Linked DNA regions of Homo sapiens. The protein of the gene in region 2 interacts with the protein of the main gene of each other region in a pairwise test. Each region holds a gene or a part of one and is shown on either strand. Other genes may lie near its edges.

Region 1 (5,140 bases), on a different chromosome or scaffold from region 2:
GCACATGTGAAATCACAGCTTCTGTTTGGGAACAAAAGAAAGGCAGTTAACTTTCCCTTTAGTATAGTAAGTTTGGGGTCCCAAGAATCTATTTTTCTTTCACAGTTGTCACATATACTCAAAAAAAAAAAAAAAAAAGAAAAAGAAAAAAAAAAGAGAAAGAACAAACAAACCAGCACCTGTGAAACTTCACCTCTGAAACTCACTCTCTCACTCTCAAGCCACTGCTTCTGCCTTCAGTTTTAAAAAGTCTATTTGAAGCTCAAAAGCCTAGGCCAGGTGTGGTGGCTCACGCCTGTAATCCTAGCACTTTGGGAGGCCGAGGCGGGCAGATCCCTTAAGGTCAGGAGTTCGAGACCAGCCTGGCCAACCCGGTGAAACCCTTGTCTCTACTAAAAATACAAAAATTAGCCAGAAATCACTTGAACCTGGGAGGCGGAGGTTGCAGTCAGTCGAGATTGTGCCACTGCACTGCAGCCTGGGTAACAAAGAGAGACTCCATCTCAAAAAGAAAAAAAAAAAAGAAAAAGAAACTCAAAGCCAGGACATGACAGTCTTAGTTCAAGCTTCTATCACAAAGTCCCACAGACTGGATGTGTCTTATTAACAATAAAAATTTGTTTCTCATGGTTCTGGAGGCTGGGAGCCTGAGATCAGTGTGTCGGCATGGTCAGGTGGCAGTGAGGGCTCTCTTTCAGGTTGCGGATGGCCACCACCTTCTTGTGTATCCTCACACGGTGGAAAGAGCGCTCTCTGGGGTTGCTTTATAAGGGCCTCAGTCACATTCATGAGGCTCTACCCTCATGACTAATTGCCTCCCACTTCCCAATACCATTACCTTCCTACTTTGGTTTCAACATGTAAATTGGGGGGCAGGGGACACAAATGTTCAGTCCATGGCAGTGACCCTGTGACCCCCCTTCTCTGCTACATCACCTCTTTCTTTCCTTTTTTTTTTTTTTTTTTTTTGAGATGGAGTCTCACTCTGTCACCCAGGCTGAAGTGCAATGGCGCCATCTCGGCTCACTGCAACATCTGCCTCCTAGGTTCAAGTGATTCTCCTGCCTCAGCCTCCCAAGTAGCTGGGATTACAAGCACCTGCCACCACACCTGGCTAATTTGTGTATTTTTAGTGAGATGGGGGTTCGTCATGTTGGCCAAGCTGGTCTCAAACTCCTGACCTCAGGTGACCCACCTGCCTCAGCCTCCCAAAGTGCTGGGATTACAGGAATGAGCCATCGCACCCGGCCTTTTTGAGACGGAGTTTCGCTCTTGTCGTCCAGACTGGAGTGCAATGGCATGATAGCTCACTGCAACCTCTGCCTCCCAGGTTCAAGCCATTCTCCTGCCTCAGCCTCCCAAGTAGCTGGGATTGCAGGCGTGTGCCACCACGCCCAGCTAATTTTGTATTTTTAGTAGAGATGAGGTTTCACGATGTTGGCCAGGTTGGTCTCGAGCTCCTGACCTCAAGTGATCCACCCTCCTTGGCCTCCCAAAGTGCTGGGATTATAGGCATGAGCCACCATGCCCAGCCAACCTCTTTCTTCCTTGACTGCATGGGTGATGTAGGAGTCCTGGGATTCCTGGGAAACAGGTATATCACACTATTATCCCAGTGTTCGTCAGCACTGGAACCATTCTAGCAGAAGTAGCACCCCAGGAATGACTGACACCGTCCCAACAGCATGGACTAAGCCTGTTCCTGTTGAAGGAGCAGAAAGCTGGTGGTGTAGGAGGGACTGGGGATGGCCAGAGAGGAAGAAAGGGCAGGAGAGAAGGTATGTCGCAAGTGGGGAGTGAGGAAACCGGGTTCATAAGGACAGAAAGGGCGAAGTGGGACTTTCTAAAAATCATCATTTCAAGTCTCAGGACTTCTTTGACTATGGATTCGTTTTATTTCTGAGTTCAACATAATAGTACTTCCAAATTTGTTTAAGCCAACAGGAAAGAAGAAAAAGAAGTAATGTGTTTGTCTTTTTTATCTAACCAGAGCACGATTGAAGACATAAAAGTGAAACACACAGCAAAGGCAGAAAACATGATCCAACTTCAGTTCAGAATGGAGCAGATGGTTTTTTGTCAAGATCAGATTTACAGTGTTGTTCTGAAGAAAGTCCGAGAAGAGATTTTTAACCCTCTGGGGACGCCTTCACAGAATATGAAGTTGAACTCTCATTTTCCCAGTAATGAGTCTTCGGTTTCCTCCTTTACTGAAATAGGCATCCACCTGAATGCCTACTTCTTGGTGAGTTCCCGGCGGGGCAGGAGCCGTGCTCTCTGAAATTTGCAGAGCTGAGTAGGGGCTATGCTAACCTAGAGAGGCTTTGCTGAGGGAAGGAGGGAGGGACCACTACAATGTATTAAGCCCTTCTGTATTATGATAAACTACTTATATATTTTCTCATTTATAATTTTACATGAACCCTATGAAGGCACTTTTAATTAATTTGCCCACAATCAATTTTTAAAGTGGTAGAGCGTGTACTCAAAATTAATTCTGACCCCAAAATTCCTTATATTTCTTATGCGGTCCATGAATTACAAAATTACTATGATCAGAATACAGCAAAATACAACAAACGTCAACGATTGTGACTATAAACTAGCTTTCCTTGGTGTTCAGAAGGCACTAACATGCCACACTTGCCAGCCCCACAAGATAGGAATGAAATTTCCTTTCCCTAGATTTTGTGACCCAGTGAACTTTTTGGCCTCTGACTGTCTATCCAATATGCAAGTATCACTGTTCCCAGGAAGAAAAAATAGCTTTTAAACTGCAAAGACACCCACCTCCCGAAGCCCTTTCTCAATCAGAATAGAGTGGTTTCCCAGCCATGGGCACCTGGCTGCCAGGCATACTGGCTATGCCTATGAAGAAGGAATGAGGGGAGGATTCGAAACGGCCCTGGTGCATACCCAGAAGGGAGCCAGGGGAGTCCTGGGCTGGGGGAGTTTCTCCAGCAGGGAGGAGCTGTGGGGATGCCCAGAGGTGATATGGGCTTGCTAGCCTACCAGGGGGCTTCTTAGTGCTAGAGGGGATGCCTGGAAGTAAAGAGGGGTCAGCGCAAATAGAACCTTCACGGGGCTTGATGCTGACCACCGGAGTGGAGGTGGGCGAGACCACCAGGGCTTCGCCAGGCAACCATGTGCGCATCCAGGAACTCCATGCCTTCTCTCTGCAACCACAGGCCTTGGGCTGAGACCACTCCAGCAAACCCTTCTTTCTCCCTCTTCCAGGAAACCAGCAAACGTCTCGCCAACCAGATCCCATTTATAATTCAGTATTTTATGCTCCGAGAGAATGGTGACTCCTTGCAGAAAGCCATGATGCAGATACTACAGGAAAAAAATCGCTATTCCTGGCTGCTTCAAGAGCAGAGTGAGACCGCTACCAAGAGAAGAATCCTTAAGGAGAGAATTTACCGGCTCACTCAGGCGCGACACGCACTCTGTCAATTCTCCAGCAAAGAGATCCACTGAAGGGCGGCGATGCCTGTGGTTGTTTTCTTGTGCGTACTCATTCATTCTAAGGGGAGTCGGTGCAGGATGCCGCTTCTGCTTTGGGGCCAAACTCTTCTGTCACTATCAGTGTCCATCTCTACTGTACTCCCTCAGCATCAGAGCATGCATCAGGGGTCCACACAGGCTCAGCTCTCTCCACCACCCAGCTCTTCCCTGACCTTCACGAAGGGATGGCTCTCCAGTCCTTGGGTCCCGTAGCACACAGTTACAGTGTCCTAAGATACTGCTATCATTCTTCGCTAATTTGTATTTGTATTCCCTTCCCCCTACAAGATTATGAGACCCCAGAGGGGGAAGGTCTGGGTCAAATTCTTCTTTTGTATGTCCAGTCTCCTGCACAGCACCTGCAGCATTGTAACTGCTTAATAAATGACATCTCACTGAACGAATGAGTGCTGTGTAAGTGATGGAGATACCTGAGGCTATTGCTCAAGCCCAGGCCTTGGACATTTAGTGACTGTTAGCCGGTCCCTTTCAGATCCAGTGGCCATGCCCCCTGCTTCCCATGGTTCACTGTCATTGTGTTTCCCAGCCTCTCCACTCCCCCGCCAGAAAGGAGCCTGAGTGATTCTCTTTTCTTCTTGTTTCCCTGATTATGATGAGCTTCCATTGTTCTGTTAAGTCTTGAAGAGGAATTTAATAAAGCAAAGAAACTTTTTAAAAACGTAGCCAGGTTCAGTGACTCATACCTGTAATCCCAGTGACTCTGGAGACTGAAGCAGAAGGATCACTTGAGCCCAGGAGTTCAAGACCAGACTGGGCAACACAGGGAGACCCTGTCTCTAAAAAAATTTGTTTGTAAGTAGCCAGACATGGTGGTGCACACCTGTAGTCCCAGCCACTCAGGTGGCTGGAGCAGGAGGATCCCTTGAGCCCAGGATTTTGAGGCTGCAGTGAGCCATGACTGCACCATGTACTACAGCCTGGGTGACAGAGTGAGAGTGAGACTCTGTCTCTGAATACACACACACACACACACACACATACACAGAGAGAGAGAGAGAGAACTTCACACCAGTGATCATCATTATGGGTAATTTTCTTTTCTTCTTCATGTTTTCCTGTATGTTTCAAATGATGAACATATAGATTCCTTAATAAAAAGGCAATAGAATAAATATCATTGCTGATTTGTTTTAAAACCCAAGTTTGAGATGGAAAGAGTGCCTCAAAAACATTCAGCTTTGTTCAGGGGTACAGACGAGAAAGATTACGTGAATTTCTTTCTTCATTTGCTGTAAAAGATGTTGGAAAAGAAAGTTCAAGTCAAAAATCACAGCTTGACCAGCATCCCCAAGAGCTCTCTTGCAGAGGTCTCTTTGATTTGTGTTCAAATGCTAGTGTATTAGTCTGCTATAGCTGCCATAACAAATATCACATGCTGGGTGGCTTAAGCTACAGAAATTTATTTCCTCCCACCTCCAGAGGCTGGAAGTGTCTGAGATCAAAGTGTTGCTAGTTTGGTTTCTCCTGAGGTTTCTCTCCTTGGCTTGCAGACTGCCACCTTCTCACCAGGCCTATGCTTGGCCTCTCTCTTTTCTCTTACAAGGATCCCAGTCCTCTTGAATCAGGTCCCCACCCTTAGGGCTTCATTTAAGCTTGATCACCTCTTTAAAGA
Region 2 (9,273 bases):
TTTATTTTCATTTGATAAAGGAACAAGGTTGACTTAAAACTCTGGTCTTAATTTATGTTAGTTTTTGTTTAGAATTTAGATTACGTATCTTTTTACACAATTAATTATGCCAACACATTTCTCTGTAGGGAAATTCGTCTGTAGGAATAACAGTTTTAACTGAAGTGGGCTGACTTGGGAGCCTTTGAGAGTTAGCGCAGTGGAGTGGAAAAACCGCTTGGAAAAAATTAGACTAAAGATACCAACATCAGAGGTTGGTGGAGAAAAACAACTGAAATCCATTCTTGGTAGTGTTCATAGCAGGCTAACCTTAACCCCCATGTGGGCTCTGGTGACCCTCTCTACTCACCACACCCACTCACTGTGGGGGAAGGGCCTGAAACTTGGTGAAAGACTAAGTTAAGAAAAAATAGGTATTACTCCTAGAGGAAGTGGGATCTGGTAAGATTTGCCAAACAACATATTTGTAGAATTTTACTTAGTAAGCTGCTTTGAGATTATTTTATCAGTAAGTGCTAAATAAAGGAAAGGGATTTTTGATTTTTGCTTTTTGAGATGGGGTCTCACTCTGTCGCCCAGGTTGGAGTGCAGTGGCTCAGTCTTGGCTCACTGCAACTTCCACCTCCTGGGTTGAAGAAATTCTCCTGCCTCAGCCTCCCGAGTAGCAGGGACTACAGGTGTGTACCACCAAGCCTGGCTAATTTTTGTAATTTTAGTAGAGACGGGGTTTCACCATGTTGGTCAGGCTGGTCTTGAACTCCTGACCTCAAATGATCCACCCGCCTTGCCTCCCAGAGTGCTGAGATTATAAGCGTGAGCCACTGTGCCTGGCCAAGGAGAGGGATTTTTTTGGGGGGTGTTTGTTATTTTAAAATAGAAATTGATGACCAGAGGGATGAAATGACTTTCCCAGGGTCCAAAGTCTTGGTGCTTGGGCTTGAACCACAACTGCTGATTGCTGGCTTGAAGTTTTTCACAGGGCCCTGTTGACTTAATTACCTTTGGCTATGTGTCCAGCAATACTTTATCTTTGCAGCATTTTGTAATGCAAAGACTGTCCCATCTGCTGTTCAGAATTCTGTGATTCCGCATTCATAGTCTAAGCTCTTATCTCTTTCTTACTTTTTGTTTGTCTATTTACAACAGCCCATAGAGCCAGTTGCATTAACATCCTTTGCCAAATAATGTTATCACTGGAAATATGAGATATGAGACCTCCTAGAAATTCCTCTGAGAGTCAAGCTTAGGTAGGATGACTTTGTGCTTTGTTTTGTCATTTCTGTAAAATAGCTTCCCTTAAAATGAAGAATATCTGACAATAAGTATAAGGAGTGAAGCAAAGTAGTGAATTCTGAGTTAGAAAAAATCAGTTATGTTTTATCTGTGTGATTGCCTTTTTTAGTATTAGTGTTCCACAATCAATTGAAGTATTTACTAAGATTGAGGGAAAGATGCATCGTATTACTTGCTTGGGTAAACCCTTCCCAAGAAGCTGTTGTCTTCTGTTTAATGCATGAGATGTTGAGTAAGCTGTGACTGGTTTGTTATGAGATAGGCCAAAAGTTTTCTTGTTTTCCTTCTTTGTTGTCTGCACTGTAGAGGTAACACACATTGTGGTATGTGTTCTATTAGAGTATGATTTAGAGCTACCACAGTGTGGTAGCTAGTGGCCACATGTGGCTCTTAAGCACTTGAAATGTGGTTAGTCCAAATTTAGATGTATTGTAAGTGTAAAATATACACCAGATATTGAAGACTTAGTATAAAAAAAATCCCACTGACACTTTAAAAAATGATTATTTTTAAATTACAAAAATTGATTGCATGTTGAGATGAAAAGATAGTTTTGATATATTGGGTTAAATAACTATGTTAATGTAAATTATCATTATTATTATTATTATTTTTGAGACAGTCTTAATATTGCCTAGGCTGGAATATGGTGGTGTGATCACAGTTCACTGTAGCCTCAAATTCCTGGGCTCAAGTGATCCTCTCGCCTCAGTCTCCTGAGTGGCTTGGACCACAGGCACACACACCACCATGGCTGGCTAATTTTTAAATTTTTGTGGAGACGGGGTGTTAGTATGTTGTCCAGTGTGGTCTCGAACTCCTGGGCTCAAGTGATCCTCTTGTGTTGGCCTCCAAAAGCACTGGGATTATAGGTGTGAGCCACTGTTCCTGGCCTAAATTAGTTTTTTTAATGTGACTACTAGGAGGTTTAATGTGTGTCTTCTATTAATTTGTGTTGGACAGCACTGAATTAGAGTATAAAATGGCTTGCCAGGATTACAATTTAATATTCTCTCACTTGTACATTATGAAATATAGAGACATATATAGTACACAAAGTACAGTTATGACAGTGTATATGGATTACTTTGGCATATTTAAATCTGTTTGCATTTTAGTAAACTAGCAAGTATTTATACCAACAAGTATTTAAAAACCATATAGGGTTTTAAACAGTTGCTTCTGGGCCGTCCCTGAGACTTAAAAAGTACAGAGCAACTGCCCCACATTTCCACTATACTGATGAGACAAGCAGGTTGAAAAGGAATCCCAAGTGACTGTGGAGTGTGTAGCACGGGCTGGGTTGGGGGAGTGATGAGGATGGGATGGGACACCAAACCACAGGTAGTTCTCCTGGGTAGGTTTCTGACAGGGCTTTGGTCAGCTCCAGGTGTTCTTCCTCTTTCTTGCTAGATGATGCATGTGTGGTATCTGACCCAAGTGTGATTTGCCTCTGAGTTCAGAATTGACTGGAAATCACTAAGTAGGTGGATTCCTGAGGCTGCAAGGGGTTAAAAATATTCATTAAGTTTTGCTGAAAAAATAGAAGGTGTGATGTGAAGCTGCAACTGCTTATAACCTTTGTTTTACGCCCAAGCACAAGCCAGTAGAGTAGTGTGGAGGAAATGTTGCCCTTTAAGATTGATGACTGCTCATTTCCTTGCTCTTCAAAGGTCTTTTTCTCATTTGGATACCCAGCTGGGAATTTCAGTTGTTTTAGAAGTTTGACTGCTAAATAAGATGTATGTGATTTTTTAGCTTTAATATTTTAAAATATCTTTATTATGTTGTTTGTTTGTTAATGTTTGAATTGGGGTAAAAAATTCATTGCATTTTGGATCACAGTTCTGACTTGATTTTTATGGATTTACTACTCAGCATCAAAAGTTACACATCTAACATTGTGAAAATCTGATTTTTTGTTTGGTTAATTGGCGATAATTCTGTAACAAACATTACATTGTATATTGGGAGGGGTTGGTTTTGAAAAGGAGTATATTCATTGGTGATAGATTTTATAGTCATAAAGCAAATAACTGTTTGCATTAGAGCATAATCAGATAATGAAGTGGTTAGTAGAAACCAATAGACTATAGATTACCAAAATTAAGATCTTGTACAACAAAATATAATTAACACCGTAACTTGAATGTAATTTTTACGGGATTGTCTTATGAATGGTAATGATTCTAAGTGGTATGTGAAATGCTGTTACTAGCACATGCCAATTGATAGAATGCTGGAAAAATCACATTTTACATTATATTTTAGATAGGATTTTTGTATGCTTGAGGGTGACTTGGCTTATGTTTTTTTTTCTTTCCTTTTAGAATATGGTTTCTAGTTTTAGGGTTTCTGAACTACAAGTATTACTAGGCTTTGCTGGACGGAATAAAAGTGGACGCAAGCATGACCTCCTGATGAGGGCGCTGCATTTATTGAAGAGCGGCTGCAGCCCTGCGGTTCAGATTAAAATCCGAGAATTGTATAGACGCCGATATCCACGAACTCTTGAAGGACTTTCTGATTTATCCACAATCAAATCATCGGTTTTCAGTTTGGATGGTGGCTCATCACCTGTAGAACCTGACTTGGCCGTGGCTGGAATCCACTCGTTGCCTTCCACTTCAGTTACACCTCACTCACCATCCTCTCCTGTTGGTTCTGTGCTGCTTCAAGATACTAAGCCCACATTTGAGATGCAGCAGCCATCTCCCCCAATTCCTCCTGTCCATCCTGATGTGCAGTTAAAAAATCTGCCCTTTTATGATGTCCTTGATGTTCTCATCAAGCCCACGAGTTTAGGTAAGTGTTTGAGAATTCAGTTTCTTCTGAACAAGATAGTAAATGAAATGAGAGACCTTCAACTATTGATTAATGATGTGCTGTTAATATAGTGAAATTGAGGCATCAATGCCGAATGTTTGAATATACGGATAAAAATTCGGCAACCATGACTGAAATCTAATAGAAGCTTTATTTCATATCATTTGATCTTTCTTCTTCTCCAATTCTTTTATTGTAAAATACACATAATATAAAATGTATCATCTTGATCATTTTAAAGTGTACAGTTGAGTGGTGTTAAGTATGTTGGTAATGTTGTGCAGCCATCACTGCCATCCATCTCCAGAACTCTTTTCATCTTCTGAAGCTGAAACTCTGTACCCATTAAACAATAGCCTTCCTCTCCTCCTCTCCCACTAGCCCCTGGCAGTTACCATTCTACTTCCACTGTCTATGATTTTGACTATTCCAAGTACCTCATGTCGTTGGAATCATACAGTATTTGTCTTGTGACTGGCTTATTTCACTAAATGTAATGTCCTCAAGGTTCTAGCATGCTGTAGTTTATGTTAGAATTTCTTTCCTTTTAAAGGCTAAATAATACAATAGTATACATTTTTAAAGAAAAATAGTAATCTTTTGCTCACTCCACTACTCATCCCTCAATCTCACTTTCAAGAGGCAACAACCTTAATTATTTTAGCTGTTTCTTCTGGTTTTACTTCTATATTTCTGTGTTATAGGATACCACATTTTGCTTATCCATTGGACACTTGGGTTGCTCCCACATTTTAGCTATTGCGAATAATTCTGTGGACACGGGTATACACGTATCTCTTTGAGACCCTGCTTTTCAATTCTTCTGGCTGTATACCCACAAGTGGAATTGCTGGATCACATAGTCATTCTGTTTTTAGTATTTTGAGGCATCACCATACTGTTTTCCGTGGCAGCTGCATTTTACATTCCCTTCAACAGTGCACAAGGGTTCCAGTTTCTCCACATCCTTAACAACACTTTTATTTTCCTTTTTTTTTTATAGTGGCCATTATAATGGGTGTCAGGTGGTATCTTATTGTAGCTTTGATTTGCATGTCTGTAATGATGGTGATATTGTGCATTTTCATGTGCTTTTTGGCCATTTATGTATCTTTCAAGAAATGTATAGCCAAGTCTCTTGCCCATTTTTGAATTGGTTTGTTTTATTGTTGTTGAGTTTTAGGAGTTCTCTGTATATTCTGGATATAATCCCTTATCAGATATATGAATGTGCAAATATTTTCTCCCACTCTGTGGTTTGCCTTTTTTACTCTGTTGATAGTGTCTTTTGATGTACAACTTAACATTTTTTCATGAAATTCCAATTTGTTTATTTTTTGTTGTTGTTGCCTATGCCTTTGGTGTCATATCCAAGAAATCATTGCTAAACTTCATGCTGTGAAGGTTTTGCCCTGTGTTTTCCTTTAAGAATTTTATAGTTTTAGGTCTTACATTTAAGCCTGATCTCTTTTGAGTTAATTTTCGTATATGGTATTAGGTGAGTGTCCAGCTTTGTTCTTTTGTTTGTGGATATCCAGTTTTTCCCCACCATTTGTTGAAAAGCCTGTCCTTTCCCTCACTGAATGATCTTAGCACCCTTGTCAAAAAGTATTTGACCATGTATGTGAGGTTTTATTTCCAGGTTCTCTGTTCCAAGGTCTCCAACCCTCAGGCCGTGGACTAGCACCAGTCCACAGCCTGTTAGAAACCAGGTCGCACAGCGGGAGGTGAGCAGCAGGAGGTGAGCAGCAGGAATTCGAGCATTACAGCCTGAGCTCCACCTCCTGTCAGATCAGCAGTGGCATTAGATTCTCATAGGTGCAGGAACCCTACTGTGAACTGTGCATGTAAGGGATCTAGATTGCATGCTCCTTACGAGAATCTAATGCCTGATGATCTGAGGTGGAACAGTTTCATCCAGAAACCATTCCCCTGGCCTGTGGGAAAATTGTCTGCCATGAAACTGGTCCTGGCCAAAAAGGTTGTGACTGTTGATTTATTCCATTGGTCTAGATGTCTGTCTTTATGCCAGTATCACAGTTTTGATTACCGTAGCTATGTAATATGTCTTGGAATCAGGAAGAGTGAATTCTCCAGCTTTAATTATTTTGTAAGATTGTTTTGGCTATTTGGGGCCCTTGAGATTCCACGTGAATTTTAGAATGAGTTTTTCTATTTCTGATAAAAAAAAAAAATTGGGATTTTGAGAGGAATTGTAGTGAATCTGTAAATTTGTTTGGGTAGTATTGATATCTTAGCAATATTAAGTCTTTCTTTTCCCACATAGGCTGATGGGGAAAAAAAAAATTAAGTCTTCCAGTACATGAACATGAGCTGTGTTTCTATTTATTTATGTGTTCTTTAATATCTTTCAGCAATGTTTTATAGTTGTTATTGTACAGGTTTTCATTTTCGTGGTTAATTTTGAAATATTTTTTCTTTTTGATACTATTGTAAAAACTACATAATTTCCTTTTCATCATATTTATTATTAGTTTATAAAAATGCAATTGATTTTTGCGTGTTGACTTTGTATTCTGCTACTTTACTGAATTCATTTATTCTAACAGGTTTTTTGTGTGAAATCTTTAAGGTTTACTGTATATAAGAGCCTACCATCTGTGAACAGGAATAATTTTACTTCTTTCTTTTCTGTTTGTATGCCTTTTATTTCTTTTTCTTGCTTAGTTGCTCTGGCTAGAACTTACTCAAGCATTCTTATGGTGTAGAAATCAGATTGCTTCCGTGTGAATGGGAATAGATACAAATCTTATTTATTGATCCTGATTTTGTATTTTGATACTTTTCATATTTTTATAAAGGGACTTACTTTCCATTTAATGTAGCTTTTAAACTGATTTTCTAAGAAATAAACCTTTTATATTTAATTTTATTTCTAAAGTGGCACAGGGAGTTTGACATGCAGTTTTTTAGCTTTTATTTAATGCCCATCAATTGCTTACAATGTGACTAACAAATTTTTGCATTGCTGTGTTATAATTCTTACTGCCTAATGAAGTTATTTACAAATATATTTGAATTTCTTTATGAAATAAATTGGGAAGTAACATTTCATAGTTGATGTGGAAGATTGCTTTCTTTTCTTTCTTGGGAAAACCCTTTTTATTTTCAGTCATGTGAAAACACTTAAACATATCAGTGTGCTTTTTTACCTGTCTTACAGGATTGTACTGCAGCCTGTCTTGGTTAAATCGGAAGGTTTTGAGGGGTAGAGCTAGTTAGTGGGGTTAGTATGGCCTGACTAGTGGCAGGCAATGTGGCTATTTTTTTTTTTTTTTCAATTTTTTGCTTTTTGCTTTATTTATGTTTTAGCAAAACTGGTGATCCAAGCAAGTGGAGTATTGCATTTTATCTCTTTATTACGTTCACTTTGAAATAAGGATTGAGTGTTTGTTCATGTTTTATTATTTGTTTGTACAAAGTCCTATGAGTAGAATTATTGGATCAAGTAAAAAGAACGTTTTAGACTCTTGATAACATATTGCCAAATTATTTTAGTGCCAGTTTAAATTCCACAAGCAAAGTGAGAGAATGCTTGTCATATCTCATTACTTTTTGCCTTTACTGGGTGCTATTGAAAACAGATCTCTGTGATTTTTAGATGAAAACTTGTATCTTGCTTAAATTTTTATTTTTAAAATTAGTAACAGGAGCAAGTATTTTATTTTATTCGATTTTATTTGTTTTTTTTTGGAGGGGGGGGACAGAGTCTTGTTCTGTCGCCCAGGATGGAGGGCGGTGGCGCTGTCTCGGCTCACTGCGGCCTCCACTTCCCCGGGTTCAAGCAGTTCTCCTCTCTCAGCCTCCCGAGTAGCTGAGGCTACAGGCATGTGCCACCACACCGGGCTAATTTTGTATTTTTAGTAGAGATGGGGTTTCGTTACGTTGGCCAGGCTGGTCTTGAACTTCTGACCTGAGGTGATCCACCCGCCTTGGCCTCCCAAAGTGCTGGGATTACAGGTGTGATCCACTGCACCTGGCCAACAAGAGCAAGTATTTTAAATGCTTATTACCCGGTTGTCTGTCTTTTATGATTTTACTTTCATCTTTAGCCTTGTTTTTAAAGAGTTGATTTATCTGGTTAACGTATTTCCCTAATTTGTTTTCTAATTCCTCCTTTATCATGGCATTTGGACAGTATCATGCACAATGTCGTGGTTCATTTATATATTCTGTCCCAGCAGTTATTATAAATTTATTACTTAAAAAAATTTTTTTTCCTTATCTATGTTGAAGGACTAGCAAATTTATTACTTTCTATTATTCTGAGAAAGATTCAGACTAGTGATATGGCTTGGGTAGCCCTGCTTCATGAGGCCCCTCAGGAATGTGGCTAAGCACAGGACAGAGAGGATAAGAGGGTCTGTAGGGTAGTGGTTACAGTGGAATGTGTTTTAGAGACATGGACAGAAGACTGGGGGGGACTAAGTGAAGATGCTGTAGTAGGCTTTTGCTCAGTGGTACTCCAAGAGGGAGACATGGGAGAGGCCTTGTCCTTTTCTCTTTCCTTACCTTCCTGCTTTTTTCACAAATAGAACTAGAAATTTTCTTACTTTGCTCTGTTCATCACAGAGTTTCTCTTTTATTAACCTCAGTAAAGTTAAATAGTATGCTCTTTATAAATTTACTAAAATAAAACTTTTCATATTTGGTGTTCAAAACTATCTCATTTGGCTTAGATAAAATAATGCCAGAGATATTTTGTTTAGAAGAGTAACTAAACTCCCTGCATTTTGGTCGTAGCTTCAGTTAGAATGCCAGAAATACACGTATCCTCATGGCTTATACACTTTCTACCCTTGAACTAAAAACAATGTTTTTCAGGAATCCTACCTATCACTGTTTTTTTTTTTTGAGACGGAGTCTCGCTCTGTCACCCAGGCTGGAGTGCAGTGGCGCGAAAAACAGACATGAGGTCAAAAATGTCATTCCAGAACCTCTTGGGATTTTGAAACCAGTAGCTGTATGTCAAAAAACCATAATGAGTATATGCTCTTTTTTTTCTTTTTTTTTTTTTGAGATGGAGTCTTGCACTGTCACCAGGGCTGGAGTGCAGTCACATGATCTTGGCTAGCTGCAACCTCCGCCTCCCAAGTTCAAGCAATTCTCCTTGCCTCAGCCTCCCAAGTAACT
Region 3 (6,947 bases), on a different chromosome or scaffold from region 2:
GAGCTGGGGGAAGGGCAGCAGGCACTGGCCTGTCTTCCCTGCAGTCTTTGGGCGGCCCGGTTGCCCACTACTGTCTAATGTATGACTCATGAGTCACGAATCATTGTGAGCTGAGTGACTGCAGTAACACGTGATGTGGTGTTGCTGAAGGACAGCATGGTTGGGGAGGTGGCTGGACTTGTAGCTGGTGGTCCCAGCGGCCCTGGAAGCCCCCCCACCAGCCTCCCTCCCACCACCCTCCCAGGTGTTCCAGGAGGTGCAGGCCCTGGTCACCTCTTGCATTGATGGCTTCAATGTCTGCATCTTTGCGTACGGCCAGACGGGCGCCGGCAAGACGTACACGATGGAGGTGGGTGCTGCCCAATGGGGTGGGGGTTCACAGTGAAGCATGAAGGGAATGCGGGCTCCCTCATTGGTCTTGGGGTATTGTGCAGTGTGTGTTTTGCCTCATTTGGTCCTCACAACCCAGGAGCAGAGGCTGTAGTTATCTGTGTTAGCCCTGAGGCACCAGGCCTTAAGAGGGGGCCCCCTTGCCCAAGGGCACCCACAATGGGCCCAGCAGGACTGGGAGAGAGGCAAGGGGGGACTATCATCACAGGGATCTCGGCTTGGGGACAGAGTCTGGGGCAGGCCACCGACCTCTCTCAGGACCAGGGCTGCATTTCACCTTGAGTGTGCACTGCACACTCCTGCTTTACCGCTGCCTTGGGCCGGGCCTGGGGGATCTGGGATGAGTGGCGGGTCTCAGTCCTCAAGGAGATCCCAGGGCAAGACTGGCATATGAAGGCTGTTGTGGGGAGCCCAGCTCTTGCCGGTGGTCCCTGGGGCCAGGCCAAGGCTTCCTCTCCCTGCTCGTCACCGGCACCCTCCCAGGTGTGGTGGAGCAGGTGGCAGGCCAGGGAGAGGGGCGTTGAGACTAGGAAGGATCTTGACTGTGGGCAGAGGGCAGTGGAAAGCTAGCCCTGGCTCTGAGGGGTGCTGTGGGATTGATTCCCTAGGTCAGGAGGAGGCCAGGTGGTGTGGCGTCTGGACAGGGGAAGGGGCTAGCCAGGCCTGCTGGGCGGCCCTCTTATTTCCCATCTGGACTCTGCTGTTCCCTCGATTCTGGGACTGGTGAGACTAGTTAGTGGGGGCAGGCCAGGCCAGGCAGGAGGAGGAAGGGGATGTGTGCGGCATCCTCTGGGCTCCCCGCTCTGCTTTGGGATTGCTTAGTGTTGAGGTGACCACCAGGAACATCAGAGCGTTCATCCTCAAGTGTATCTGCTGATGCATAAGGTGTATCAGGCATCGTGCCAGGCACAGCTGTGACCCAAACAGTCCCTGCCCCCACAGAGGGCCCTCCCCACAGGGCCAACCTGGCTGTGGGGAGACAGCAGGGTCTACACAAATCAGCAAGTGTCCTGTCAGGCCAGGGAGAAAAATAAAGCCAGGAATGCGGAACTGACTAGGGGGAGGGACAGGGCATTTGGGGGTGCTGGGCGAAGGAGCAGCCTCCCTGAGGGGGCATCTTGGGAGCAGCCTCCCTGAGGGAGATGACGGAGCCGGCCAAGGGGCGGTCAGAGGAGTACCCGGGGCAGAGGGAGCTGCAGGGCTGAGGCCAAGAGGCCAGAGCATGCCAGGGGCACCTGAGGCCCAGCCAGGAGGCCCCTGTGGCCGGAATAGAGAGTGAGTGAGAGGTGCTATCAGAAGAGGGGTGAGGGCCAGGCTCCCAGGGCCTCGAGGTCCCGGGTGGGGACTCCAGGTTTCCTTCTAGAAAGGCCGGCCCACCCGTCCTTCCCCAGGACACTGGCCCGCTCCTCCTTGTGCCTCCTCTCTACCACCCACAGAGCCCAGGTCTCAGCCTCCCTGAGACTGAGCGCCTTTCTGGGCAGTGGCGGGGTCATTCATTTCCAGTGCCCCTCCCAGGTGGCCCCACAGGGCCAGGCATGCATCTGGCCCTCAGCTGCCCTGTGTGGGGTCTGGGCCAGGCCCCTCATCCCAGTGCTGCACTATAAGTCTCAGGGTAGTCCTGGCAGGGCGATGCCATTTTAATGGTGGGGAAATAGAGGTGCAGTTGCCCGCAGCTGGTGGAGGGCATTTTGGGGGACAGTGGCAGGTAGGTAAGAGCTTTGGGCAAGGAGGCTTGCTTGTGAGGGGTAGTCAAGGGGCTTTGGGGACAGACACCACACGAGCGTCTTTGGGGACAGGCCTGGCTTACTGGGGCCTTTCCTTCTGTCCCCAGGGGACCGCTGAGAACCCAGGTATCAACCAGCGGGCCCTGCAGCTGCTCTTCTCCGAGGTGCAGGAGAAGGCGTCTGACTGGGAGTACACCATCACCGTCAGCGCTGCGGAGATCTACAATGAGGTCCTCAGGTGGGAGCCCCAGGGTGTGCGGAGCAGGCCTCAGGGGCAGCTTTGGGGTCCTCCGGGGTGGTGCTGGAACGAGGTCCTCAGGTGGGACCCCCAGTATGTGGGGAGCAGGCCTCAGGGGCAGCTTTGGGATCCTCAGGGGTGGTGCTGGAGCAATGGGGGATAGGAAGTGGGGTCTTCCTGAAGGGAGTGTAGGGACCAGATGAGGCCGTCAAGGTGAAGGGAGTGTAGGGACCAGATGAGGCCGTCAAGGGACCTGGCTGCAAGTCCTGACTCAGCCCAGTGGGTTGGATGGTTCTGGGGGGAGGAGGGGCTCTCTCTGAGACCCAGGCAATCCTTGCCCCTACCTGTGGGCTACACCAGGTGGCCATGGGTGAGAGTGGGCAGCTAGGGGCCCTGCCAACAGGGGCTCATTGTATTGTGGAGTGAGATCTCCACGTCTTCAGCTGAATGCGGTGGAGGAGCTGGAGGAGGAGAGATGCACTCAGCTGATGGCTGGAGAAGGCTTCCTGGGTTGGGGGAACATTCCTGGCTGGGGGGCTGGGTGCAGTGCAAACAGCAGCTGGAAATGGGAGGAGGGGGTGACTGTCTCACCTGCCCCTCCAGGGACCTGCTAGGGAAAGAGCCTCAGGAAAAACTGGAGATCCGGCTGTGCCCAGACGGCAGTGGGCAGCTGTATGTACCAGGGCTGACTGAGTTCCAAGTGCAGAGCGTGGACGACATCAACAAGGTGTGGAGGCGGGAGCCCCTGACCACAGCCACACTGCTCTAGAGGACACAACTGGGTTTGAATGTAGGCTCTGCTGTGTCCTAAGCACGCACCCTTGGGCAAGTCCGCACGCCTCTCTGAGCCTCAGTTTCCTCATCTAAACTGCGGAGGGTGGTGCCACTCCTCATGGGTGCTTGGGGCCAGGTGACTCTGAGGACCCCATTCTCAACGCTGTGCCTCTGCCCTCCTCCCAATCCCCCAGGTGTTTGAGTTTGGCCACACTAATCGCACGACCGAGTTCACCAACCTGAACGAGCACAGCTCCCGCTCGCACGCGCTGCTCATCGTGACGGTGCGAGGCGTGGACTGCAGCACAGGCCTCCGCACCACGGGTGAGAGTGGCAGGCAGCCTGGCCTGAGGATCCCCACAACCCCAAGGGGCAGGGCAGGCCTGATCTGGTGGGTGCCTTCCCTGCAGGGAAGCTGAACCTGGTGGACTTGGCTGGCTCGGAGCGCGTGGGCAAGTCGGGGGCCGAGGGCAGCCGCCTGCGGGAGGCGCAGCACATCAACAAGTCGCTGTCGGCTCTGGGGGACGTCATTGCTGCCCTGCGCTCCCGCCAGGGCCACGTGCCCTTCCGCAACTCCAAGCTCACCTACCTGCTGCAGGATTCGCTTAGTGGTGACAGCAAGACCCTCATGGTGGTACAGGTGAGGACCTTGGGTTAGGGCGGGCCAGTCCCTAGCATGTAGGGGCTACGCTAGCAGTGAGACCCAGTCACCCCAGGCTGTGCAAATGGACCTCCCCGCCCCTAGACCTGGCCACACACACCCTGTGTAACTCCCAGTCCCTCCTCTCCACCTTTGACCACAGCACCTCTGCCATGTTGCCTGCCCTCCCACCCCATCCCTCAGGCCTCTCCAGGAAGCCTTCTGACGGCCCCAGCTGTGAGCTCCCTCTCGTGACCCTGTTGCCCCTCCAGCTGGCCCGGGTGGGCAGTGAGCTCTCGTGTCCCCTAGGTGTCCCCCGTGGAGAAGAACACTAGCGAGACGCTCTATTCCCTCAAGTTTGCTGAGAGGGTGCGCTCTGTGGAGCTGGGGCCTGGGCTACGCAGGGCAGAGCTTGGGTCCTGGTCAAGCCAGGAGCATCTAGAGGTACGGGGACTGTCACAGGCCTGGCTCAGGTGGCCCTGGGTCAGAGACTTTGGGTCATGGCAGGAGCAGGGAGCTGGGCGGGGACGTCCTGAAGCAGTGGGGGCAGGGAAGCTGCCGGAGTTGGGTGGAGCTACGGCTGGAACCCACAGCCAGCAGCCTCTTCAGTACAGGTATTTCTTCTTGGCCTCGGAGGTTCCTGTGGGGTGACGAGCTGGCCGTGGGGGTGGCACATAGTAGATGCTCAGTGGTAACTAGTTGACTTCTTTACATGAATTATCTCATTTAATTCTTGCCATAACTGAGGCTGGGGCACAAACATCATGCCCATTTTGCAGATGAGGAAACTGGGTGTTAGGAGGCAGGGCAGGGGAGTAGAGAGAAGCACAGCAGGGTGGGGAGCCAGGGCAGCCGTGGCCCCCGCCCATCCGCCCTTCCCTGCTCACAGTGGGAGCCGGCTTGTCAGACGCCACAGCCCTCGGCACGGGCCCACTCAGCCCCCAGCTCTGGGACCAGTAGCCGCCCTGGATCCATCCGGAGGAAGCTGCAGCCCTCGGGTGAGCCTGGAGTGGCAGTGTGGGTGGGGAGTCTCCCCAGGGTAATAGTCACCAGGCTGCCCTTACCTGGATGGGCTTTCTCTTTTCTTTCCTTTTTAAAAAGTTCTTACACCTTCTCCAGAACCTGTTTTACAACCTCCCCTGCCCCCAGGCAGTAGTCAGGGCAGACAGTGCTGTGTCCGTTCTGCAGGTGGGAAATGGAAGGTCTGTGGGAAGGGGGCAGTGTAAGGAGACCCCAGCCTCTCAGCCGGGGGTGCTGACTCTACCCTGGGACCCTGCTCTCTGAGCATGGGCTGGCTGAGCCTGTGCAGTAAGCCCCCTCCAGAGCAGCCCCTGCAGCCCCCTCCCTGTGCCTCAGCTGCCCCGGGGGTAGAAAGGGCCGGGCTTGCCTACCTCCTAGGTGAGGAGTGAGCCCCGCCACAGGACCGGGACCCAGGGCTCCAGCCCCTGTTTAGCCCAGATCATGGGAGGGCCTGGCCCATCCTTGAGTCCAAAGGGGTAGCAGCAGCAGGGTCTTGTGGGGTACTGGCCCAAGGCAAGCCCACCAGTGAGACGCCTGTCACTTTGATTTCAGCCTGACGGCTGGGGCTGCAGAGTCTCTAGGTGAGTGTGGGGCCTGTGGCCCAGGGCTGCCCGCCTGCCTGCCCGCAGTGGGTTGCAGGGCTGCGCTGGGACGTTCTGCTGTTCAGAGCTGGGTCTAGCCCCTGCTGTCGCTTGTCTATGTGCTTTTGCTGGGTTCCCTCCTGCTCTCGGTGGCAACTGCTGTGGGCTGCCGGTGGGCAAGTGGACAAGAGGCTGATGATCTCATGCCCCTGCAGGGAAGTCGCGGCCACTGCCTGTGTGACGGATGTGACCCCGCTGGGCCTGAAGCTGGGCCCTCACTGGCCTGTCCCTGCTGCAGCGCCAGGACCCCCGGAGGTAGAGGCGAGAGTGGAGGCTCTTCTTCTGCCCCGTCTCCCCTCAAAGATGAGAAACATGTTCAGAAGGAAACGGTGTCTCTCGGCTGTGGCTCTGAGTGCAAATTGCATGGGCGGAAAGGCGGGGGTGGCTGCTCTTCCTGGCAGGCCTGGGCCATCAGCGAACTGGGCCCCGTGAGGAGGGCGGGAGTGTGGAGGAGGGTGGGCCTCTCACCCAGGCTTTCTCGGCCCCTCTCCTCAGCTTGCAGAGCTGGCCAGCCCCCTCCTTAGGGGGTGGGCGAGGAGCCTCTGGGCAGACCCAAGAACCATGGGGACTGGGGTGGGTTGGTGGCACCAATGGCAGCCCTCCCCGCCCCTCTCCTTCAAGGAGGGTTCCCGCAGCTGGGGGGTGTGCGGAGGCGCATGGCCTCCCGCCACGGGGCCGTGCTGTGTTTATGGCTGGCAGAGGCAGCCAGCGGGTGGGGGATTCTGCTGCTCGCTCACCTGCCTGGCTCGCTGGTCTCTCGAATTTTCTTCCCTCTGAAATCCTATTTAAGAACTTTTGGAAGCTTAGCCATTTTTACTTATTAAAATAAAAGAAGCCTTTTTACACAAGTATGGTCTGAAAAAGTTGGTCTGTGAGCCCCTCTTGGTCTGATTAGGGGGACGGGGCACTGGCAGGTCTTGTGGACTCCCCCGCTGGCTGGTCACCCCACAGCCCTCTGGGATCTGTCCTCTAGGTCAGTTAGGGACATGCGTCCTTAACAAACAACTGGGGGGAGCCTGCGCTGTCCCACCCTGGGTCACTTTCTCTGTTGTTTGTGGTCACAGTCGCCTCATGCGGTACCTACCATGTGCCCACGATAACTGACCTCCCAACAGGGGCATTCCTCCATGTTACTGATGGGAAGGAAACTAAGGCTGGAGAGAGCTTCAAAGGCTATCAAAGCCTTGCCCAAACCATGCTGGGCTTCCAGGTTACTGCTGGGCACCACCCACTGCCCACTCTTTGCCCTGGCCTTTTCCCTCTTCAGTGAACTGGCCAGAGGTCCACGCCACCTTCCTCCAGTGCCGAGGACCCTGACCACCCCGGGGCGGGGCTGTACCTGGTCCCTGCCTTGGGAGCAGGAGGGGGCCCACCTGTCGCAGTGCCCACGGAGCAGGGAGCCCTTTCCCGCCAGCCAGTGCTGGGGACTCCAGCAGGGAGTGACAGCTGATCGGAGCCCTGCTCAGAGGAAGGGGCAGGTGCCCTTCTAGTCCTGCCCCTGGAGGCATCCTGGGGGTGTC
Region 4 (8,868 bases), on a different chromosome or scaffold from region 2:
GTTCCTACAAAATGCAGAAAGGAATTGAAGAAAAATCAAATTAAATTTATCATAGCATATTTTGGAAAATGAGATGTTGTATGTTGAAAACTTGCATTAAACATCAGATGTAATGGATAAACATTAGCTCCCTTCCTAGTGAGATATGAAACAAGGTAAGACCCTCAGCAACTTAGGATTTGAAGGCACGTAGGTATTTTGGTTAGTAGTAAAGACTCCAGATCCAGCAGATCCAGACTGTTTAATTTAGGTTCAAAACTGGCTCAGTACCATCCTGGCTAACACGGTGAATCCCCATCTCTACTAAAAATACAAAAATTAGCCAGACATGGTGGCAGGCACCTGTAGTCCCAGCTACTCGGGAGGCTGAGGCAGGAGAATGGAGTGAACCCGGGAGGCAGAGCTTGCAGTGAGCCGAGATCGCGCCACTGCACTCCAGCCTGGGCGACAGCACGAGACTCCATCCCAGAAAAAAAAAACTGGCTCAGTGGCCAATGGCTGTGTGGTCTTACCCAACTTACTTAACCTCTCTGTGCCTTAGCTCATTCACATATAAAATGGGATAATAGCAATATTGACTTCACAGAGTGTTATAAGTTAATCTATTTAAGTACTTCGAGCTGGATTTGACATAGGGCAAGCAAGGATATTTTTATTGTTATTATATTTGAAAAATATATTAGTTACAAACTTAGGTGAGAGACCAAGGTCTATGGTAAAGGTGATTATAAGCCTTCATACACCCCTGTTGTTCTGAAAATCTTAATTATAACAAGGCCCGGTGGAGTGGCTCACGTCTGTAATCCCAGCACTTTGGGAGGCTGAGGTGGGCGGATCACCTGAGGTGAGGTGGGCGGATCACCTGAGGTCAGGAGTTCGAGACCAGCCTCACCAAAGTGGCAAAACTATCTCTCTATTAAAATACAAAAAATAGCTGGGCATGGTGGTGGACACCTGTAATCCCAGGTACTCGGTAGGCTGAGGCAGGAGAATCACTTGAATCCAGGAGGCAGAGTTTGCAGTGAACCAAGATGGAACTATTGCTCTCCAGCCTGGCGACGGAGTGAGACTCCATCTCCAAAAAAAAATAATTAATTATAACAGCATGTCCATTCACTCTCCAAAGTGTCTAGGACTGGACAATTAATTGTCAGGCCCTCTTCTGTAGCACCCTACACTATAGCATATATGTGGATTAATATAAATACACATACAAATTTCAAGTATATATTCCATATACTTTCTATATACTTATTTTCTAAGAGGTCACATGCAAATTCAAGGCTATGTCAAAGAGTAGAGTGGCTATCTATGGAAAGGGGAGTGGAAGTGAATCATGGTAATAAAAAATAGGTGTAGATATAGATATGAATATGTAGACATACACACATATAGCGGCAAGAAAAGGGAATGTCATGGACCAATGATGACAGTGAGCCATGTAAAAAGGCTACAATTTTTGTGATTGTGTGTCCATTTTCAGGATGGGTTGTAGCTTACCTTTTTAGAAAGGCTGATGCCATAGTCATAGTGAATAAATGATTATAAAATGTGTTTCCTTTCTGGTGCACCTCTGGAGAAACTTGACACAGAGTCTCTGATGCCCAAGCTGGAGTACAGTGGTGCTATCTCGGCTCACTGCAACCTCTGCCTCCTGGGTTCAAGTAATTCTCATGCCTCAGCCTCCCAAGTAGCTGGGATTACAGGCATGCCACCACACCCAGCTAATTTTTGTATTTTTAGTAGATAATGGGGTTTCACCATGTTGCCCAGGCTGGTCAACTCCTGGCTTCAAGTGTTCCGCCAGCCTCAGCCTCCCAAAGTGCTGAGATTACAGGTGTGAGCCACCACGCCCAGTAAGACTGGCTTACTTTAATATAATTTTTACCACCCCTATGGGAAAATACAGCCAGACCCATCATAAGGTATTTTTTTTCACCAACTACAATCAGAAGCACCGATCATAAAGTATTTACTGGAGAACCTATGCCTTTGATAATAGAACCTCATGTATCCCCTGCACATTTTAGCTCTGACTGTGTAACCAGGGGTTCAACTCCAACAGATTAACCATTGCTTAAGTTGCAAAGCCTAAATTGCTCAGGCATGTCCGATGGGAAAAAGGTTTAACCTCTTAACTGTTAACACAGCCTGGCTGACTGTTTGAATTGGCATCACCTGAAACCAGTTGGAAAGGCCATGTGAGCTTGCTCCACTATCCCCAGATTGGGGAGACAGGCTTGGAACTTGTCTCCTGTCTCCCTGTCAGTTAACTATTTTTTATTTTTATTTTTATTTTTATTTTTTTCTTTGAGACAGAGTCTTGCTCTGTTGCCCAGGCTGGAGTGCAGTTGCGTGATCTCAGCTCACTGCAAACTTGGCCTTCCGGGTTCAAGTGATTCCTGCCTCAGCCTCCACAGTAGATGGGATTACAGGCGTGCACCACGATGCCTGACTAATTTTTGTATTTTTAGTAGAGAGGGAGTTTCACCATATTGGTCATCCTGGTCTGGAACTCCTGACCTTGTGATCTGCCCGCCTCGGCCTCCTAAAGTGCTGGGATTACAGGCATGAGCCATTGTGCCCGGTCCAGTTAACTCCTAATAATTTTTTATTTTTTCCCAAAATGGAGTCTTGCCCTGTCACCCAGGCTGGACTGCAGAGGTGCAATCTCAGCTCACTGCAACCTCTGCCTCCCAGGATCATGCCATTCTTCTGACTCAGCCTCCAGAGTAGCTGGGATTACAGGCATGGATCACCACACCCAGCTAATTTGTGTATTTTTAGTAGAGACAGGGTTTTCCCATGTTGTCCAGGCGGTCTCAAACCCCTGACCTTGTGATCTGACTCCCTCGGCCTCCTAAAGTGCTGGTATTATAGGCATGAGCCACCGTGCCCAGCCTTTTTTGCTTTTCTCAAACCATGGTGGTGTAGTATTGGGTTCTATGCACTTAGGAGAGTGAGCTCATCATTCAGTAACAATATGACTCAGTACCACGAGACCTTTCAAAGACTATTTCCAGTAGGTGAAGGAGGCTTTTAATGATGATTGGACCTTCATGCCCTACCATTTGGAGATTGTGTCTTTTAAAATGGCCCTAAGGGAAATCTGCCCATGAGCAGCATTGGATGAGACCATACCAGGTGACTTAAAATTAAGGATAACCAAGGAAAAAAGCCTTTCTTACAAGCAGACATCATCACATGGTAGACAGCTGTTTTAAGAAAATGGAACAAAACTCCATTCGATCTCCTTCCATTGACTGAGACTTGGTTTTGTTTTGTACTAACACAAAATGATCAAGCCTACATTTTATTTTGTTACGTACTTTCACCAGTCAAAGCAAACACTTTCTAAGGTCTCCTCTTCAAAATTTAGCCACTATCACTAACCAAAGCAATTGCTGCCTATGGAGTCATTTAGATGAATAGGAAGGATCACAACTAATAGTAGAACCTGCTCTCACACACGGTTGGGTAATATTTATGATTAAATGACTCGGCACTGAGAAGAAGCTATAGATGCAAATGGGTGGCCTATGACTATTATTGATTTCATTACTGGTAACTTATCTCTATGCATAGGAAACATTAGTGTAACTGGGTCTAATCTAGGTGGTGTCCCAGACTCTTGTGGCTCAGGCTGGAGTGCAATGGCACAATCTCAGCCCACTGCAACCTCCACCTCCCGGGTTCAAGTGATTCTACTGTCTCAGCCTCCCAAGTAGCAGGGATTACAGGCATGTGCCACTACAGCCAGCTAATTTTGTATTTTTAGTAGAGACATGGTTTCTCTGTGTTGGTCAGGCTGGTCTCCAACACCCAACCTCAGGTTATCCTCCGGCCTTGGCCTCCCAAAGTGATAGGATTACAGGCACGAGCCACCGAACCTGGATAGAGAACATTTCTGATGGCTCCATATTGATGGAACTTCAAATAACTCTCTGGTAAATTATTTTCTATAATACCCTTAAATAAAAAATGGAGAAGCTGAGATCCAGATCAATGTAGACTTTGGTACAGAGTTGGTGGTACCAGGGCTGCCATATCCAGTTTACACCCCAACCTGATATATCAGCAAATCTCCTGGAGTAAGGAAAATATTTCTGAGGAGGGGTTTCACATGAAATTCAGAAAATTCCTGTGTTTGAAGCAGTCCAAATGACATTTTGTGGCAACAAAATATATGGTCTACTTAACAGAGAAGGAGACTGTGTAAGAAAAAAAGAAAAAAGATGTTTATCCTGAAATGAGCAAAGCATTGGGAATGGATGTGAGATTATTTTGGGAGAAAAATAGAAGATGAAGGTTTTGAAAGGAAAAATAAGGAGGATTATATAAATTGTTTTGAAAGGCTCATCCTTGGTCCTAATAATCAAAACCAAAGGGGCATCAGTGAAATATTGGATAGATTCCTCCTCCACCCCCTCAGTAACCCCCAACATGTTTACCAAGTCTTGGTTCACTCCCAGGATCCCATTAAAACACCAAGCTCAACCAAGCCCATCCTCTACCCTCACTTCCTTTTGCAATTTTGACATGATTTTATTACAGGACCATCAGATTCCTATGCCTGCTGCACAGTAGCTTACCAATATTTTGAGACAGCAGAGTTTGCAGCAGAGAGTTTAATGATCACAGGGTGGCTAAATGAGAAGCTAGGAGGAGATCCTCAAATTCATCTCCCCAAGGAGGAGATCCACTGAGGGTTTCCAGTGGATCCTGGATAGCAAGGGGCTGGAAAGTTGATATAGAGTTAAGAGGGATGAAGTCATCAGGATGTCAAAACTGCATTCTTTGGTGCGTTGGTGCCTTGTAGGGCCCTTCAGATCAGCTGGCATCAGTACTTTCACTGACATGCAGAACGTAAGAATATCTCAAATGAAAAAGTTAATGTTTTACAAGGCTTAAATTGTTGTCTGCAGGGCAGTTAAGGGGAACTGTAATCTAAGGTCTAAATGATTTGGGGACAGTAGGCTGCCAGCAACCATGAGGAAGAAGGTCAGAGAGCAAGCTGACCTCATGGTGAATGCTGAATGCGCTGCAAGCTTGGTTTATTTTTGTTTCTCCCCCTCCCTTCTTCACTGATTAAATTTATAAAGTTTATAGGTATCGTTTCAATTTCTTCCAAAGAAGCCTTAACCTAAGCACTGAGACCACTCACGCCCTGAGTGGCACCTCTCTTCCACCAGCACGAGTGAAGAAACTGCTACCTTAGGTGATATAAAACCCACAAGACCATTCCATACATGGAGATCTTTATTCTTATTTTGTAGGGATGACTCCGTTTTTATAAAGTTGTTTTAACTAGAAAGCATTTTTATAATTTTGATGTGGCCAAAGATCTCCCCACAACACTACTTTCAGGTTTTATTTTTCTGTCTAATGTCCGGAACAGATCAACCCCTTCCCTGCCTCACACTCAGGACCTGAAGGCGACATAGCAGTAAAATTCCATCAGTGTTTGTGGATTTCATGAATGAATGCATTTTTTTTTTGACAAAATCTCCCTCCGTCACCCAGTCAGGAGGGCAATGGTGTAATCTTGGCTCACTGCAAACTCAGCCTCCAGGGTTCAAGGGATTCTCCCACCTCAGCCACATGAGTAGCTGGACTACAGGCAGCCACCATCGTGCCTGGCTAACTTTTCTATTTTTGTAGAGACAGGGTTTCACCATGTGGGCCAGGCGGGTCTTGAACTCCTGACATCAGGTGATCCACCTACCTTGGCCTCCTAAAGTGCTGGGATTACAGGTGTGAGCCACCTCATCTGGCCTTGAGTGAATGAATTCTTGACTTCCACTCTATCCCTAACGCTGTCAATTTCTTAATTCATGAAATGAATATGCATATGTGATATGAATGGATACCTGGTTCAATCCATTAGTCTTCGGACAGCCAAAAACCCAATCAGGATTAACTGAGTGGAGCTTCAGAAATGCAATCAGATATCGCTTTTTGATTGGAAGCTAGCAGCGGATATGTGGAGGGGCGTGGGTGGGAGTTGTGATTAGAAAGGTCAATAAAAGCTTCTAAAGACCCACAGGACAGACTCAAAGTCTTCAAGCCTGGAGTTCCTGCTTGGCTCTTCCTGAGGTCTGAGCTACAACTACAACCAGAGGTCTAAACTACAACCAGATCTGGTAAGTCACTAATTTCTGGAAGGACACTCCCATCTGACCTACAGTCAGCCGGTCTAGAACGGTGACAGTGCAGCCTACGACGGCACAGAACTATATCCTGTCTTTTTTTCTTTTTTTCATATGAACACTTTGAAGCTTTGATTTTTTTTCTAAATGCAATTTTGTCTTTATTTCAAAAATGTTGTTGTGCTTTTCTTTACATCATTTCAGAATTCTTGTTGGGAGCCATTTTGTGAAGAGACGAAGACTGAGCTGTTTTGGCTGCATTTCTGGCCTCGAGCCGCAGTCAGTTTCTCCCCGTAGAACCCGGCAGTAGGAGACTTAGAATCGAATCTCTTCTCCCTCCCGCCTCCTGTTTTTGGCTTTTTGAGAAACCTTATCATCCAACACAATGGCCAGCAACGTTACCAACAAGATGGATCCTCACTCCATGAACTCCCGTGTGTTCATTGGGAATCTCAACACTCTTGTTGTCAAGAAATCGGATGTGGAGGCGATCTTTTCCAAGTATGGCAAAATTGCGGGCTGCTCTGTTCATAAGGGCTTTGCCTTCGTTCAATATGATAAGGAGAAAAATGCCCGGGCTGCTGTAGCAGGAGAGGATGGCAGAATGATTGCTAGCCAGGTTGTAGATATTAACCTGGCTGCGGAGCCAAAAGTGAACCGAGGAAACGCAGGTGTGAAACGATCAGCAGCGGAGATGTACGGCTCCTCTTTTGACTTGGACTATGGCTTTCAACGGGATTATTATGATGGAATGTACAGTTTCCCAGCACGTGTACCTCCTCCTCCTCCCATTGCTCTGGCTGTAGTGCCCTCGAAACGTCAACGTCTATCAGGAAACACCTCACGAAGGGGCAAAAGTGGCTTCAATTCTAAGAGTGGAAAGCGGGGATCTTCCAAGTCTGGAAAGTTGAAAGGTGATGACCTTCAGGCCATTAAGCAGGAGTTGACCCAGATAAAACAGAAAGTGGATTCTCTCCTGGAAAACCTGGAAAAAATTGAAAAGGAACAGAGCAAACAAGAGGTAGAGGTGAAAAATGCTAAGTCAGAAGAGGAGCAGAGCAGTAGCTCCATGAAGAAAGATGAGACTCATGTGAAGATGGAGTCTGAGGGGGGTGCAGAAGACTCTGCTGAGGAGGGGGACCCACTGGATGATGATGTTAATGAAGATCAGGGGGATGACCAGCTGGAGTTGATCAAGGATGATGAAAAAGAGGCTGAGGAAGGAGAGGATGACAGAGACAGCACCAATGGCCAGGATGACTCTTAAGCACATAGTGGGGTTGAGAAATCTTATCCCATTGTTTCTTTACCTAGGAGCTTGTCTAACAACAAATTTTTCACCAGATCCTCTCCCTTAGTATCTTCAGCACATGCTTACTGTTCTCCCCATCTTTGTCCTTCCCATGTTCATTAATTCATATTGCCCTGTGCCTAGTCCCATTTTCACTTCCCTTGACACCCCTAGTAGTTGTCCTAAGTCTTACCCTGTAATTTTTCCTTTTAATTTTGACACCTCTTTATGACTTAACAGTAAAAAGGATGTATGGTTTTTATCAACTGTCTCCAAAATAATTTCTTATTTTGTTTATTTAGTTTATTTATTTGTTAGTTTAGTTTAGTTTTGTTTATTTGTTATTTAGTTTACTGAGAATGATGTTTTCCAATTTCATCCATGTCCCTACAAAGGACATGAACTCATCATTTTTTATGGCTGCATAGTATTCCATGGTGTATATGTGCCACATTTTCTTAATCCAGTCTATCATTGTTGGACATTTGGGTTGGTTCCAAGTCTTTCCTATTGTCAATAATGCCGCAATAAACATACATGTGCATGTGTCTTTATAGCAGCATGATTTATAGTCCTTTGGGTATATACCCAGTAATGGGATGGCTGGGTCAAATGGTATTTCCAGTTCTAGATCCCTGAGGAATCGCCACACTGACTTCCACAATGGTTGAACTAGTTTACAGTCCCACCAACAGTGTAAAAGTGTTCCTATTTCTCCACATCCTCTTCAGCACCTGTTGTTTCCTGACTTTTTAATGATTGCCATTCTAACTGGTGTGAGATGGTATCTCATTGTGGTTTTGATTTGCATTTCTCTGATGGCCAGTGATGATGAGCATTTTTTCATGTGTTTTTTGGCTGCATAAATGTCTTCTTTTAAGAAGTGTCTGTTCATGTCCTTTGCCCACTTTTTGATGGGGTTGTTTGTTTTTTTCTTGTAAATTTGTTTGAGTTCATTGTAGATTCTGGATATTAGCCCTTTGTCAGATGAGTAGGTTGTGAAAATTTTCTCCCATTTTGTAGGTTGCCTGTTCACTCTGATGGTAGTTTCTTTTGCTGTGCAGAAGCTCTTTAGTTTAATTAGATCCCATTTGTCAATTTTGTCTTTTGTTGCAAGTTGGAATGCTTTTATAAGAAAGGTTGAAAGAAGGGGATGGGACTCCTCCTATCAGTTGTTTTTTTTTTAATTTTCTTTTGTTTTATCCTGGCAAGGCTCTAATAGAGTTGAGCTTTTTTGTTTTTGTTTTTTCCATTGGAAGGGACAATACAGAGGTTACAATCATTGACTTTAGATGACAACATGACAGGCAAAAATATTTTCCTTGCAAGACAACCAGCAAAACTTCACGATCAGAATCAAATCAGTGTCCTTCTCACTGTCACTGGGTGAAGCCTTCATCAGTACTTGAAGAGTCTCAGGCACTCATG

What was found.
Region 1: the proteins of PIAS2 (region 2) and MX2 interact in binary tests that used the Homo sapiens proteins (3 or more experiments, as listed by UniProt).
Region 3: the proteins of PIAS2 (region 2) and KIFC3 interact in binary tests that used the Homo sapiens proteins (3 or more experiments, as listed by UniProt).
Region 4: the proteins of PIAS2 (region 2) and HNRNPCL1 interact in binary tests that used the Homo sapiens proteins (3 or more experiments, as listed by UniProt).

Annotation. Positions count from the first base shown.
Region 1 is NC_000021.9:41,404,754-41,409,893, forward strand, and holds the end of MX2 (interferon-induced GTP-binding protein Mx2), read left to right. Parts: intron 1-1,990; coding exon 1,991-2,245; intron 2,246-3,237; coding exon 3,238-3,480; 3' UTR 3,481-4,640; downstream 4,641-5,140.
Region 2 is NC_000018.10:46,885,405-46,894,677, reverse strand, and holds part of PIAS2 (E3 SUMO-protein ligase PIAS2), read left to right. Parts: intron 1-1,146; exon of another isoform or gene 1,147-1,247; intron 1,248-3,623; coding exon 3,624-4,098; intron 4,099-9,273. UniProt on the Homo sapiens protein: Functions as an E3-type small ubiquitin-like modifier (SUMO) ligase, stabilizing the interaction between UBE2I and the substrate, and as a SUMO-tethering factor.
Region 3 is NC_000016.10:57,757,545-57,764,491, reverse strand, and holds the end of KIFC3 (kinesin-like protein KIFC3), read left to right. Parts: intron 1-244; coding exon 245-349; intron 350-2,221; coding exon 2,222-2,352; intron 2,353-2,955; coding exon 2,956-3,079; exon of another isoform or gene 3,080-3,177; intron 3,178-3,320; coding exon 3,321-3,450; intron 3,451-3,536; coding exon 3,537-3,766; intron 3,767-4,075; coding exon 4,076-4,210; intron 4,211-4,655; coding exon 4,656-4,764; intron 4,765-5,338; coding exon 5,339-5,343; 3' UTR 5,344-5,367; intron 5,368-5,582; coding exon of another isoform or gene 5,583-5,608; 3' UTR 5,609-6,275; downstream 6,276-6,947. UniProt on the Homo sapiens protein: Minus-end microtubule-dependent motor protein. Involved in apically targeted transport. Required for zonula adherens maintenance.
Region 4 is NC_000001.11:12,845,956-12,854,823, reverse strand, and holds HNRNPCL1 (heterogeneous nuclear ribonucleoprotein C-like 1), read left to right. Parts: upstream 1-6,103; 5' UTR 6,104-6,143; intron 6,144-6,353; 5' UTR 6,354-6,534; coding exon 6,535-7,416; 3' UTR 7,417-7,447; downstream 7,448-8,868. UniProt on the Homo sapiens protein: May play a role in nucleosome assembly by neutralizing basic proteins such as A and B core hnRNPs.